Linked DNA regions of Homo sapiens: region 2 is linked to region 1. The links come from fine-mapping of genetic effects on gene expression. A gene starts in region 1. The other region holds a variant in brackets. All regions are shown on one strand. Distances are from middle to middle. Region 1 holds the start of TEKT1 (tektin 1). Region 2 overlaps XAF1 (XIAP associated factor 1).

The links. PIP is the estimated chance that this variant, and not a neighbour inherited with it, causes the effect. A credible set is the group of variants that fine-mapping cannot tell apart.
Region 2: its variant is the best candidate, but not a certain one, in a credible set for the expression of TEKT1 in monocytes after R848 (Quach 2016, PIP 0.82).

The regions. Positions count from the first base shown.
Region 1 is chr17:6,830,406-6,833,300 of GRCh38, forward strand. TEKT1 (tektin 1) reads right to left here and starts at 1,324. Exons shown (of 8, transcript NM_053285.2): 1 at 1,244-1,324. RefSeq lists a silencer at 1,287-1,336.
Region 2 is chr17:6,765,747-6,768,668 of GRCh38, forward strand. All of the region lies in intron 5 of XAF1 (XIAP associated factor 1), which reads left to right. Among named protein-coding and RNA genes, the nearest start is that of FBXO39, 9.0 kb to the right of the region's middle. The variant G/A (reference allele first, on the strand shown) is at 1,692.

The DNA of each region.
Region 1 (2,895 bases):
AGACTCTTTTAGATTAAATGAAAGCAATTTGTCCTTTTTTATGATAATTTTTATTCAAGGATGACATATATACGGAAAATTGCATAAATCATAATCTGTACACAAAATAAATCTATCTGTGTAGCCGGCACCCAAACCAAGAAACAAGCATTACCAGCATCTCTAACCTCCTCCCAGTTACTCCACCTCAAGCCCCTCAGGGTAACCAGTATCCTGACTTTTAACACTACAAATTCGTTTTGCTGTTTTTGAATTTAACATAAATGGAATAATACAGTATGTATTATTCTGTCTCTGACTTCTTTAGCTCAACATTATGTTTGTAAAATTCATCCATATTGTCTATATGATTGCAGTTTGTTCGTTCTCGTTGCTGTGTAGGTGCCGTTATATGAATAAAATCTAGCTGTCTTTTCTACTGTTTATGGATATTTGGGTTGTTTACACTCCAGGGCCATAATGAGAATGCTATTAATAGTCTCATACATGTCTTTTGGTGAACACGTGTATGCATTTTTATAACTCATTAGAATTGTTGGGTCATGGAGTAATGTTCTGCCAAACAGATGAGCCCAGAGATGTTTTCTTAAAAAAAGAAGAAGAAAAAGAAGAGGAAGAAGAAGGAGGAGGAGGAGGAGGAGGAGGAGGAAATGTAACATGTGTAAACTGACAACTGGGTATTGAACTTGTTCAACACATAAAAGAATCTGAAAACTTCCAGGACAAAGAAAAGGAGAGAACAGGAAGGGGAACAACACAGGGGAAGCCAGCTGGCAGAGGCTGTCGGCAGTGGAAACGCTAAAATTACCCATTTCATCTTCATACAACTCTGATGGACCATGAGAACTGCCTTCCTCAGACAGGGCTGAAATCTGCCCCCACTCCCATCTCTACCCTAAGGTCTGAGTCCCTGCTCTTAGGGGCCTCTGGATCTCTGAAGCCTTCACATATATAAGGATGAAACTAGAGTCAGATCTTGACTAGGCTGAGAACCTCAGCCCACCCAGCCCCCTCAGACAACATGGAGTTTCTCCGTTTCTTCCTAGCCCAGTCCCTTTTATGGCTTCTACCGAATTTATCTGAGTGTGGAGCCCAGCATTTAACCCAAGGCTCCTGGATAAGTCTGAATAGCCCCCAGAGAGGTGGGGACCTAAATTAGGGCTCATCCCAACGTCATAAGGATTTGGTTAGGCGGGGAGGGTTGCGGGTAGGGGTCGGTGGGGTGGGGTCATGGTTTACTTACCTCAGCGCCACACAGAACCACTACGCAAGCTCGGGATGGGAGCCTCCTTACCCCAACTGGAGCTTCCAGCTCTTGCAGAACAGAGAGGTAAACAACGCGGTCTCCATGACAACAAGTGACGCGTTGCCAGGGCAAAGAGGGCTGGTTCCGCCACTGAGCAGCCTGGCCAAAGGCTTAGCGCAGGCGCAAATTCTGCGGACCCCAGAGCCAGAGACCCAGGAGTGTGGCGTGTGGGAAGGGTAGGGCCAGATGCTCCGGCCACCTCAACCTACCGCGAAGACGCGGGGCACCAAGCAGAAGACAGCGGCCAAAGCCCCGAGCTGGGAGTCAGGAGACCTGCGTCTAGTCCGAGCCCTCCCGCGGGCGGGATCATCTCGGGTCGCGCTGTACCCCGGCTCTCAGACTTCCCGGCTGTACAGTGGGGTTGGGCTGGGCGATGCCTCCAGGACCTCGCAGTCGCAGGCGAAATTGAGGGTTAAAAATCAGGAAGCCAAGTTGATTGTTTCTGTAAGCTACAATGAGTTTCCTCCAGAGTTTGTATAGGTCTGTTACCACAACTGGCTTATTTCTGCGTGGGGCGCCCGATGGGGCACTCTGTGAGGGCAGGTGTGTGAGTAGAACGCCTTCAGGCAAACACTCCAGAAGTCACTCTGCATCCACTAGGAGATGGAAAATATGGGAGAAAAATTAAATCTGAGGGGATAGCTCCAGAAGATTTAATATTTGTCAAGTAGGACTTCCAGAAGGAAAGAAAAAAAGAGAGAGAATGGCAAAACAATTGTGAAAGTGAGAGAGAGATAACTTGAGCCAAAGACTCAAGTCTTTAGATTAACGACCCACCTGAAATTAACACACACCCCCATTCCTTACATATAGTCCTCCCTGTGGATTATGCATATAATCCATAGAGTGATTAGCTCCAGGATCCCCCTCAGATACTGAAATCTGCAGATTCTCAAGTCTCATATAAAGTGGTGTAGCATTTGTATATAACCTACGCACATCCCTAGATAGGCATACTTTACGTCATCTCTAGATTGCTACAATACCTAATACAATGCCTAATACAATACCTAATATAGTGCCTAATACAGTGCCTAATGCAATACATAATACAATACATAATACAACACCTAATACCTAATATAATACCTAATACAATGCCTAATACAATACCTAATACAATGTCTAACCATGCCTACTCATCGCTTCATTCGCATGGATTCAACATAGCACTCAGGGTGCAACAAATTCAAGTTTTGCTTTTTGGAGCTTTGTGGAATTTTTTTCCTGAATATTTTTTATTTGTGTGTCATCGCATCCAAGGATGTAGAATCCACGGATAGGAAGGGCCAACTTTATACCTATTCTGGTGGAATTTCTTAATTCAAAGAATAAGAAGAAAAAGAAAGAATAGGTATCAAGTGTTTCGTCTCTAACACAGGTGGCTAGAAATGATGGTTGCTAGAAATGATGCTAGGATAATGCCTTCAAATTCTATAGAAAATTATTTCAAATCTGGGATTCTACAACCAGTCAAAGCATTTCATGTATGAGAGCAAAATAAAAGATTTCTTTGGACATGCCAGTACTCAAAACGGTGAGCGTACATTCTTTATGGAAAAAAATAATAGAGCAAAAGTGAAAAATCC
Region 2 (2,922 bases), 65 kb before region 1:
CAGCAGTCTCCTAAACGGTCTTCCTACTTCTCACCTTGCCCCCTACAGTCTATTCTCATCACAGAGGTCAACGTGATCCCTTAAAAATACAAGTCAGATTGTTTGGCTCCTCTGTTCAGATCTCTGTACTGATTCTTGCCCCATTTTATGCAAACTCAAAACTACAGTGGCTTTAGAGATCTATGTCATCTTTGCCTCCCTTCTTATCTCATCACCTCTTTGATCTCATGTACTACTCCTGTTCAGCTCACTGGCCTCCTGATTGTTTCTTGAGCATACCATGCCTTAGGGCCTTTTCACTGGCTACTGCCTCTGGCTGGAAGCTACCTCCTCACCTTCCCCACCCTACTCCAGGAGCTAACTCTCTCACTTCTCTCAAGTCTTTGCCCAGATGGCACCTTCTCAAGGAGATGTACCACAACAACCTATTTAAAATTGCAACTCCCTCTCCATCACATATTTACCAACCCCTTACCTTCTTCTATTATTTTTTCCATAGCATTTGCCAACTTCTAACATATTATCTAATTTACTTACTTATTATGGCCCTTGTTAATTGTCTCCCACGACCTCAGAAAAACTATAAGCCCCACTGGTCCCCTTCATGCTAACTACTCCCCAGACACAAATACTCTACTTTTGCTTTTAGCTGTTTCTTCTGGTAATCACCTTCATATGTCTAAAGCACCTTCTTATATTTTTTCCAGTTTTAGATATTACTTATTGACTCATAAGGATTTAGGAATATAGATTTCACTTTTTTATACCACCCATCCCACACACACACCTCCAAAGTTCTTCATTTCATCCTTCCAATGTATTGATTTCACTCATTCTGGTTAAATAAATATTCAGTATTACATTAGTATAACCATGTAAACATTATAAATGGTTTTCCACATGAATTGTGATTATGTGTTCTTTCTCCTACAACTTTTTGTTTTACCTGGACTTAATAATTGCTTCGGTTTTTCATTTGCTTCACTTTCTAGGTACCTATCACTAAATCATCCCTAAAATTCTCTACCAGATCTGAAAATTCCCCTGAGTACAACTACACACATCAGATAGTCTGTCCATTTCATTTTGGGAGCATGTTATGCCCCAGGCTTGATGATTAGCTGTTGGTCTGGAATTTCTTCCACTCTCTCCACGGTTGGAGTTCTGATTCCCAAATCTCAGGTCTCATCTTTCTCTTTCTTAGGTTACTCCTTGTTTGATAGAACATATCCCCAAATAGTTTCTTGAGAAAGAAAGCATGAGAGGCAAATTTTTTAGGCCTTATATGTCTGAAAATGAAAGCTTGGGTGGCTATAGAATCTATTGACCATCTTAATCTGTTTATTAAAAATCTTATTACAATTCTGATTTGGCCACTACACACTGTATACATGTATTAGAAAATCATTCTGTATTCTATAAGTATGTATCATTATTACTTGTCCACTAAAAATAAAAGAAATAAAATTGATTACAAAAACTTTCAAATAAATATGACAGTAGAAAGTTAATACAATAAACATTCATGTATTTACTCCCCAGATACAACAGTTGTTGTTCTAAACAAGGTGAATAAAAATAAATCTACTCTTAGATACATTACAGGTAAAAGGCAAAGGTTGATTTCTTTGAAATCAGCCGAAGAAGATTACAAGCAAAGGAATGGCAGTTAGGCTGAAAGCAAATATATC[G/A]ACAGCAATAATAGAAGTGGGTATGCAGTGGAATAATCTTCAAAGTGCTAAGAGAAAATAGCTGTTAACACGTGGAAATCAAAAGTTTTCCAGGCTTGAACTATACTTTGTTTGTTTTCTTTTTTCTAAAGTATGTTAAAGCAAATCCAAGATATCCTGTTATTTCACCATCATTCTTTAATATCTCAAAAATACAGTCATTTTCTTAATCACAATGCCTTTATCACTCTCAATGATGTTAACAATAATTTTCCCCCATCGTTTTGGGGCCTTGCATTTACCACTCTTGTTCATTACTACTGCTGCTGCTGCTGCTGCTGCTGCTGCTTGCTTCTCCCTTGTATTCTATTGGATTGAGCAAGATTTCTTTATTCTCTTTCTTCTTTCCTACTGATTCGTCAATTTTACATTTATTTCTATCATTTCAATAGTTACCCTTAACATTTTAATATAAATACTTGACTTAATAAAGTCTAAAGTTAGTCATTATCTCTACTTTCCTTACAAATAGTATATAGATTTGAGAACATGTTAACACTGTAACTATCTTACATGAAAATGCTGCCAGAATTTTGTTTCATTTTGCTTTCATACTACCCCTCTTTACTGATTATTGTTGTTATTTATGTAACTCATGCCTGTTTAGATATACTCACATGTTTTTGTTTTTGCTTTTTTTCTTTCTTTCTTTCTTTTTTTTTTTGAGACAAAAGTCTCACTCTGTTGCCTGGGCTTGAGTGCAGTGGCACGATCTTGGCTCACTGCAGCCTTCGCCTCCTGGGTTCAAGCAGTTCTCCTGCCTCAGCCTCTCAAGTAGCTGGTACTACAGGTGTGTGCCACCACGTCTGGCTAATTTTTGTATTTTTAGTAGAGATGGGCTTTTCCATGTTGGCCAAGCTGGTCTTGAACTCCTGACCTCACATAATCTGCCCACCTCGGCCTCCCAAAGTGCTAGGATTACAGGCATGAGCTACTGTGCCCGGCTGGATATACTCACAAGTTTACCCTTCTCTTTACTCACATTCTTCCTTGGATCCTAAGCTTTCCTTCTGGGTATGATTTCTCTCTTCCTGAAATACATCTCAGTAGCTTCTTCACCAAGAACCTTGAGTAGTAAATCTTTAGTTGCCTGAAAATAAGCTTTTTGTTTTTTGCATCCATGAATGATAGTTTAGCTGGATATCAAAATCTAGATTAACAGCTATTTTCTCTTATCATTTTGAAGATTATT